Regions from separate parts of the Homo sapiens genome. Here all the other regions are linked to region 1. The links come from fine-mapping of genetic effects on gene expression. A gene starts in region 1. Each other region holds a variant in brackets. All regions are shown on one strand. Distances are from middle to middle.

Region 1 (2,748 bases):
GTCCCAGGGTCCTCATTGCCCAGCCCAGGGCTTGGTGCTGCCTGGGTGATCAGTGTTGGGTCCAAAGGCTGTTGACAGGGCTGAGAAGCCCCCAGAGGACCCACATCCCTAGGGGCAGGGAGGGGGCAAGAGAAGCTTCCCTTGAGTTTCCTGGAAGGATCAGGAGTTGGACTGGCAAAGGAGGCAGGTAGAGGAAGACAGAGATTAGGCAGAAGCAGGCAGTGGAGTAAGAACAGGGTGTTGGAGGAACTAGGCTGAGGTCTCTGCCATCAAAGCCAGAGTTTAGATTTGGTCTCAATAAACGGGAAGCCCTGGCTGGATGTGGTGGCTCACACCTGTAATCCCAGCACTTTGGGAGGCTGAGGAGGGAGGATCATTTGAGCCCAGTGCTCAAGACCAGCCTGGGCAACACAGTGCGACTCCGTTTCTAAAAAAAAATATATAAAAATTAGCTGGGTGCGGGCTTGCACCTGTAGTCCCAGCTACTCTCCAGGAGTCTGAAGCTGCAGTGAGCTGTGACTGCACCACTAAATTCCTGCCTGGGCAACAGAGCAAAACTCTGGTCTCAAAACATAAAAATAAAATGTAAAATAAACAGGGAGCCCCGAGGATTCCGGGCAGGAGGGGGTGTGGTCAGCACTGGAATTTTAGAAGAAGGGCAGTTGGTAGCTGGGGGAAGGGGGTTCCACACTGGAAGGAGGGGGTCCAGGACTTGGACATGGTATAGGATGTGCCGCCTGCCAGTGGGACCTAGGACAGCAGGACCATCACTGAGGTGGCCACACGGGGAGGGGCAGGAGGGGACACCCTGCTCTTGGAGAGAAAGGGGGTGCCCATCCACCCCTGCTGTATGAAGGGGAAAGGGGGACTCTGAGGCCCAGCGAGAGAGGGGACGGGCCCAAGGGATTTGTGGACAGTGGGGGTGGGGGAGAGGGGAGCAGAGAGCACAGATAGGGACCTGGGGCAGATGTGAGTCTGGGAGGTTCGACCCCTGGCTAGACTGTTTCCCCAAAGGGTCCTCTGCTCCTTGGGCTGTACGCACTGCACTGGGCACTAGATACAGGCCAGGGCTTAGGGCACGGCGGCGCCTGTGGGATCGGGGTTGCAGGCGGCGTCCAGACCCAGGGGCCCCTGGTGAGGGGCGGGCCCGGGGAGGGGGCCATAAGGGGCTGGCTGGGGAGGGAGGGAGGGAGAGGCCAGGGAAGGGACAGGTTCCGAGTGGACGCTGGGTGGAGAGGAGAGGGAGAGTGGGGGCGGTGGGGGGTCGGGTCCGAGGCGGGGCTGGTGGGGAGGGGGGCATCCGGGGGCGAATCCGGGTAGGGGGTGAGGAGGCGGGTTCGGAAGGAATCGGGCAGGGCCCGGGTGGGTCCGGTGAGTAAGTGAGGGGACGATCCCCGGAAGGGATCGGGGCGGGTCGGGGTCCGGAGATGGGCGGAGCAGGCGTCCCGGGAGGGTGCGCCCAGGAGCGGGGCGAGCGGGGCGAGCGGGGCGGTCCCGGAGACGAGGCGGGTCCGGGGAGGGGGCTGGCCCGGGGCTGCCCCAGCTTGGCCGGGCGCGGAGCGGGGCGCATGGCGCCGGGCGCACTGCGCGGGGGCTGCGAACAAAGGGCCCCCGGCGGCGGCGCGAGGACGGCCGCGCTCGGACCCTGGCCCTGGCCCAGCCCTGGCCCGGCCCCCTCCCCAGGCGCGGCGCCCCCCAGGAGCCGAAAAATGAGCGGCGCCCTGCTCTGGCCGTTGCTCCCGCTCCTGCTCCTGCTGCTGTCGGCGCGGGACGGCGTGCGCGCCGCGCAGCCTCAGGCCCCGTGAGTATCCTCCGGCGACAGAGGAGGTCGGTCGCCTTCTGGGGTGGGGGTCGCGGGTACTGGCTCAGAGTGTTGCAGCGACCTGCCCAAGGCCACACAGCCTCCGCGCTGGGCTGGACCTGGCCTCTTGTTCCCGAATCGTCTTGAGGAGGGGGCGCCCTAAAGTTTCCGAAGTGGCTCTGTGGAGGTACAGGGACTCCCAAAAGCTAAAGGTGCTGAGGTCAGCTCCCCCCGCCCCACCTCGCCCCCTTCGTGTGACCCGGGCTGTCATCATGGGTGGCGATTTCCAGTTGTCCAAGGTATGAAGGTAAGAGGAGCGTCTTGGCTGAGAAGTGGGAGGAGAGTGCGAAGGGGCACTTTCCCGTGGGTGGGCGTGGTGAGGGAGGAGGAAGTGTTTGTTTTGCTTCTACATTTTTCTAGAGGTTTGCTTGCAGGCTTCTGGTGGGTTGACAGCGGGGAGAAGGTGAATTAACTAACTGCTGGGGAGTACTGCTAAGTTGGCTTCACAGAGAATATTTCTAAACCTGGCAAGTTCGGGTGAGCTCTGCAGGGCTGCGGGTTCAGGGGGGCTGCCCTGGTCTGCACAAGACCAGCCTTTTAGTCCAGCTGGGCGTTTAGAAGGCGGCTTGTTCAAGCAGCCCTTGTTTAGGAGTTTCCAGAAAACTGGTAAGCAGTGAGACTAGGTGGGTGTCGTTATTTGCAGTGAGTAGTTGGTCCTTGCTGGTCACAGTTTTAAAAGCAAGACAGTCTACTGCGCTCTGAGCATCCAGACTTCCCTCTCCTAGGCTTCGTGAAATCGGAACCCTACAAATTTTCATCCTAATGCTTCTTTCAAAGCTGGCATCCCTTAGAATAGTGGTTCTCAGCCCTGGGGGGGATTTTTGTCTCCCTGAGGCCGCTGGGAAATGTCTGGAGGTATTTTTGGTTGTCACAAATAGGGAGAGGCA
Region 2 (2,748 bases), 25 kb after region 1:
CCTGGACAACATAGTCCCTGTCTGTATAAAACTTTAAAACAATTATCTGGACATGGTGGCACGTGCCTGTAGTCCCCGCTACTCGGGAAGCTGAGGCGGGAGGATTGCTTGAGCCCAGGAGATCAAGGCTGCAGTGAACTGTGATTGCACCACTATTCTCCAGTTTGGGTGACAAAGTGAGACCCTGTCTCAGAAAAAAAAAAAGGTGGCCAGGCATGGCAGCTAACGTCTGTAATCCCAGCACTTTGGGAGGCTGAGGTGGGTAGATCACTAGAGGTCAGGAGTTCAAGACCAGGCTGGCCAACATGGTGAAACCCCATCTCTACTAAAAATACAAAAATTAGCCAGGCGTGGTGGCATGTGCCTGCAGTCCCAGCTACTTGGGAGGCTGAGGCAGGAGAATTGCTTGAACCAGGAGGAGGAGGTTGCAGTGAGCCAAGATCGTGCCACTGCACACCAACCTGGGAAACACAGTGACAATCTGTCTCAAAAAAAAAAAGAAAAGAAAAGAAAAGAAAAGAAAGAACGAAAAGATTCTTAGGCTCCTACAAGAGTTCTCTCAGGACCCGATTCTTTCTGGTTTACCGGCTGCTCCAGGGTGTCACCTCCGCCCCTGGTGACAAGATGGCTTGATACTCCCAGGGCTGAGTCCAGAAGCAAATGGAGAAATCAGCTCTCTGTTGCAGTCACCCTGGGGATGCCCCTTGTTGGCTCCCAGGGCCACCTCTATCCCATGCACAGACACAGGGGCTAGGAGGAGCCTCCTGGCCTCGTGTCCACCCTGGGATAGGCTGGAATCCGCCACACTCTAAGCACGTGGTCTAAAAGTGACAGGGGAGGCCCCTTGAGGAAAATGGGGTCCTAGTCCCCCAAAGATGAGAAATAGATGCAGCCCACAAAATCCCCAGGGCTGCTCAGCAGAGTGGTGTGGATGGGTACAGTGTCAACCTCGGTGGTGGCCAGGTGCTGTGGTCCTCAGACACCTTGCACCGGTGTCAGGGCTCCTGAGGCCACCTTAGGGACAGAAGCCAGCCCCTCCTCTCTGCTTGCTTTCTTCAGTGTTGCCCAAGTTTGAGCTTCTGATTGACCCGCCCCGGTATATCCAAGACCTGGACGCCTGTGAGACAGGCACTGTGCGGGCCAGGTGAGAAAGAGGGACCCCTGGGGCACACTGGGGGGGCCCTTCCCCTTCCCCAACCATCACGCTGCTCCCTCAAGGTCGTTCCCCTCCTCTGCTGCCTCCCTCCCTCCCACATGGGTGTGCCCCTCCCTTCCTGGTTCCCTCCTCCCTGGGGTGTGCCCCTCCCCTAGTGCATCTCCCTTCCTGTGACTCTCTCCAGTAGGCGCCCCCTCCTCAGGAGGTGCCCCTCCCCCTAGAGTATCTCCCTCCCCACCAGGCTCCTCCCCTGTGGGCGCCTCCTCCCTGGGGTGTCC[T/C]CCTCCCTCTAAAGTATCTCCCTCCCTGCTGGGCTCCTCCCCTGTGGGTTCCCCTCCCCAGGATGTGGCCACCCGCTAGAGCATCATCCTTTCCCGTGCCCCTCCCCTGGGGGCACCCCCTCCCTGGAGTGTACCCCTTTCCCTAGAGCATCTTCCTCCCCCTGGGCCCCTCCTCTGCCCTCCCCTTCCATCTCCCCCAACAACCGGGCTTCCCCCTCCTCCTACAGGCAGACACTTCTTCCATGGCCTCCCTGCTCCCACAAGGGTGCCCTGTGCCCCGCTCCCTCCCTAGTACTCGGTGTCTCCCTGCCACATGAGTCTCTTGCACTCTACCCACTGCCTGTCTTTGTTTCCATGCTGGTGTCCTCACCCCTATGAGCACGCCCCTGTCTCTCCAAAGCATGCCCCTCTCCCGCTGTGTATTCCTTCCTCAAGTCCTGCCCTTCCACTCTAAGTTCTTCCCTCCCCAAGGGTCTCCCCTCCCCAAAGAATGCCCTACCCCCCAGGGTGTGACCCTCCCAACCCCACCATGTTCCCCTCTCCCCCAAGGCTGCTCCCCGCCCTCTGCAGGCCTCCCTGGCATCCAACAGCACCCCCGCCAGTGTGCTGACCCGAGAGGGGTTGATCCTTGTTTTTTTTTTTTTTTTTTTTTTTTCAGACGGAGTCTTACTCTGTCGCCCAGGCTGGAGTGTAGTGACAGTCTCAGCTCTCTGCAACCTCTGCCTACCGGGCTCAATTGATTCTCCTGCCTCAGCTTCTCCTAGTAGCTGGGATCACAAGCATGTGCCACCACACCCAACTAATTTTTGTATTTTTAGTAGAGACAGAGTTTCACCATGTTGGCCAGGCTGGTCTCGAACTCCTGACCTCAAGTGATCTGCCCACCTTGGCCTCCCAAAGTGCTGGGATTACAGGCATAAGCCACCATGCCCAGCCTGCACTCTCTCATTTTGCTCCTGTTCCCCATCCACCAGCATTCCCTCTGCATCAGGAGTGACATACAGACATTTAAGTTTCACTATCACCCCTGAGAGGGTAGTTTGAGTCCCATTCTCTGGGTGAGGAAACAGGCTCAGAGAAGTTCGGTCCTTGGTTCAAAGTCGAGCTTAATAGGGCGCTTAGGCTCAGGTGCCTCTCAGTCGCTCATGCCTCTGCACTACTCTGCTCCAGAGGTGGCACCAACCTAGCCTTCTCAGTTCCAGAGTTCCTCTCTGACCCTTGGTCTCTTTTTCTGTCCATCTGGAGGCTTGGTGCAGAGGATCGGAGGGCCTTGGCATCTTCTGTCCCGATTCCAGGCTGCAGGGAGGGCTGTCA
Region 3 (2,748 bases), 130 kb after region 1:
CCTCGGACGCCAGGGAGGGCTCCCCTGGGGGCTTGGCAGAGGAGGGGCCAACGTAAAGTCAGGAGAACGCAGCATAGAGGTGGGCGGGCGCTCTGCCTGTACGGGGGAGGCGGGGCTGGAGGAGCGGTCAGCGGGGAGGGGCGTGGCTGGGGGAGTGGTAAGTGCGGAAGGGAAGTGGCTGGGGAATGGTCAGTATACTGGGGGCAGGGCCGAGCCAGTGAGGGTGTGGTCACTGTGGTGGGGACTGGGCGCAATGGGTTGAGGGTGGTCAGTGTGGTGAGGGCGGGGTCGAGCGGCGAGGGGGAGGTGAGTGCGGAGGGTGCGGGGTTGAGGGCGGGTGTGTTCAGTGCGGGGGGCGGGGCCGAACGGGGTGGGTGTGGTCAGTGCGAAGGGGACGGGGTTGAGAGTGGATGTGGTTAGTGCTGAGGGGATGAGGTTGCGGTGGGTGTGGTCAGTGCGGGGGGCGGGGTCGAGGGTGGGTGCGGTCAGCGCTGAGGGGCGGGATTTGTGGTGGGTGTGGTCAGTGCGGAGGGGGCGGGGTTAAGAGTGGTCAGGACGGAGGGGGCGGGGTTGAGGGTAGGTGTGGTCACCGCGGAGGGGGCGGGGTTGAGGATAGGAGCGGTCAGTGCGGTGGGGGTGGGGTTGGGGTGGGTGTGGTCAGTGCGGAGGAGGCGCGGCAGGGGACGGGGCTGTTGTTGCAGGGCGGCCCAGACAGGACGCCCTGTCTCCTTTCTCTCCTACAACCGCTTTTTAAAAGTCTGTTTCTGTTTTTGTAAGTATTAGGCAAATACCTGCGTGAAATTCCATAAGGCCAGGGCTCAGGACCTCCCATTAACTGTCGCGCCCCAAGACCCACCGAGGGGGTAGTGGGCCCGGGACCCAGGGACATCTTCCCCACCCCCAGGTTCTGTGGGGGCGCGGGCAAGGTTCAGGGTGGGGGGTCTGTCGAGCCTGCCTCGTCCCCCAGGCTGGTTCCCCGGCGAGTCGGGCCCTGCCGTGGCCCCTGAGGAGGGGGCGGCGATCGCGCGATGCGGCTGCGACCACGACTGCGGCGCCCAGGGGAACCCGGTGTGCGGCTCC[G/A]ACGGGGTGGTCTACGCCAGCGCCTGCCGCCTGCGGGAGGCCGCCTGCCGCCAGGCCGCGCCCCTGGAGCCCGCGCCTCCCAGCTGCTGCGCCCTCGGTGAGGACCCTACCCCCCGCCTAGCCTCGGGGACACCATCGCTGCTGCTCTGGGCCACGGATCTCCTCCCCTCGGCCCTTGGGTCCCCTCCCCGCCACGCCCTCCCGACCGAGGCCCCCTTCCTTCCAGAGCAGCGGCTGCCGGCCTCGTCGTCCTCCACCTACGGGGATGACCTGGCTTCTGTGGCCCCGGGGCCTTTACAGCAGGACGTGAAGCTGAATGGAGCCGGCCTTGAGGTGGAGGACTCAGACCCTGAGCCTGAAGGGGAGGCGGAGGACAGGTAACAGCTGGGCCCACCCCAGAGATAAGAGACATAGGCTCAATATCTCCCCACCTCCCTCCCCTACCAACCTCCCCCGACGACCTGCCCCGACTCCTCCGCCCCGCCCCGACCCCCCACTGGCAGTGGGAGTGACTCAGGGTCAGAGGCTCAGAGTTCCTGGGGACAAAGTGGGACATTCATCCTCCCTCCACCCTGGCCCACGCAACACCCACCAGCGAACAGCTGTGCGCGGGCGCACGCGCGCGTGTGTGTGTGTGTGTGTGTGTGTGCGTGCGCGCGCGCGCGCGCATACGGGTCAAGGATCCCTTATCCGAAATGCTGGGGGGACCAGCAGTGTTTCGGATTTCAGATTTTTTCACATTTCAGAATGCTTGCATTATATAGTTAGCTAAGGTTCAGCATCCCTAATCTAAAAATCTGAAATGCCCCAATGAGCATTGCCTTTGAGCACGTCAAGTCGCTGCTCAAAAAGACTTGGATTTTGGAACATTTCAGATTTAGGATTTTTGGACTAGGGAAGTTTTGCCTGTAGTTAACAGTGTGCGGTTTCCTCATGGGCAGATTTGTGTAATCTCAACCATAGTCAACAAACAGCCCATCTGCACAGGATCCTTCCAGCTGCTCTTCCATAACTTCATCTCTCCCCTCAACACCTGCAACCACTAAGCCATTTTCCCCCTACCCGTCTGTAATTTTGTTATTTTGAGAATGCCAGGTAAATGGAATCAGAGCGGATAATCTTTGGAGCATGATTCCCTTGCATTCACCTGTGTTGTTTCGTGTATCCATAGTTTATTCTTTTTTTAATCTGGGCTCACTGCAATCTCCGCCTCCTGGGTTCAAGCGATTCTCCTGTCTCAGCCTCCCCAGAAGCTGGGATTACAGGGGCCCGCCACCATGCCCGGCTAATTTTTTTTGTATTTTTAGTAGAGGTGGGGTTTCACCATGTTGGCCAGGCTGGTCTTGAACTCTTGACCTCAGGTGATCCACCCGCGTTGGCCTCCCAAAGCGCTGGTATTGCAGGCATGAGCCACCATGCCAGGCCTATTCTTTTATTTTTCAAACGAGGTCTCACTGTGTTGCCCAGGCTGGAGTGTAGTGGCGTGGTCATGGCTCACTGCAGCCTTGACCTCCTGAGCTCAAGTGATCCTCTTGCCTCAGCCTCCTGAGTAGCTGGGACCACAGGCACACACTACCACCACGCCCAGCTAGTGTGTGTGTGTGTGTGTGTGTGTGTGTGTGTGTGTGTGTTGTAGAGATGGGGTCTCTGTATGTTGCCCAAGCTGGA

What was found.
Region 2: its variant is fine-mapped to the expression of CPAMD8 in whole blood (TOPMed, PIP above 0.99). The same link has a PIP of 0.9 or more in T cells.
Region 3: its variant is fine-mapped to the expression of CPAMD8 in fibroblasts (GTEx, PIP 0.99).

The regions. Positions count from the first base shown.
Region 1 is chr19:17,025,604-17,028,351 of GRCh38, reverse strand. It overlaps CPAMD8 (C3 and PZP like alpha-2-macroglobulin domain containing 8), which reads left to right and starts at 1,542. Exons shown (of 42, transcript NM_015692.5): 1 at 1,542-1,801. The coding sequence starts at 1,710. RefSeq lists an enhancer at 462-1,370.
Region 2 is chr19:17,000,662-17,003,409 of GRCh38, reverse strand. It overlaps CPAMD8 (C3 and PZP like alpha-2-macroglobulin domain containing 8), which reads left to right. Exons shown (of 42, transcript NM_015692.5): 9 at 1,060-1,144. Among named protein-coding and RNA genes, the nearest start is that of CPAMD8, 25 kb to the left of the region's middle. The variant T/C (reference allele first, on the strand shown) is at 1,435.
Region 3 is chr19:16,894,885-16,897,632 of GRCh38, reverse strand. CPAMD8 (C3 and PZP like alpha-2-macroglobulin domain containing 8) reads left to right here. Exons shown (of 42, transcript NM_015692.5): 40 at 968-1,177; 41 at 1,307-1,457. Among named protein-coding and RNA genes, the nearest start is that of F2RL3, 7.3 kb to the right of the region's middle. RefSeq lists silencers at 1-367, 438-657, 708-787. The variant G/A (reference allele first, on the strand shown) is at 1,081.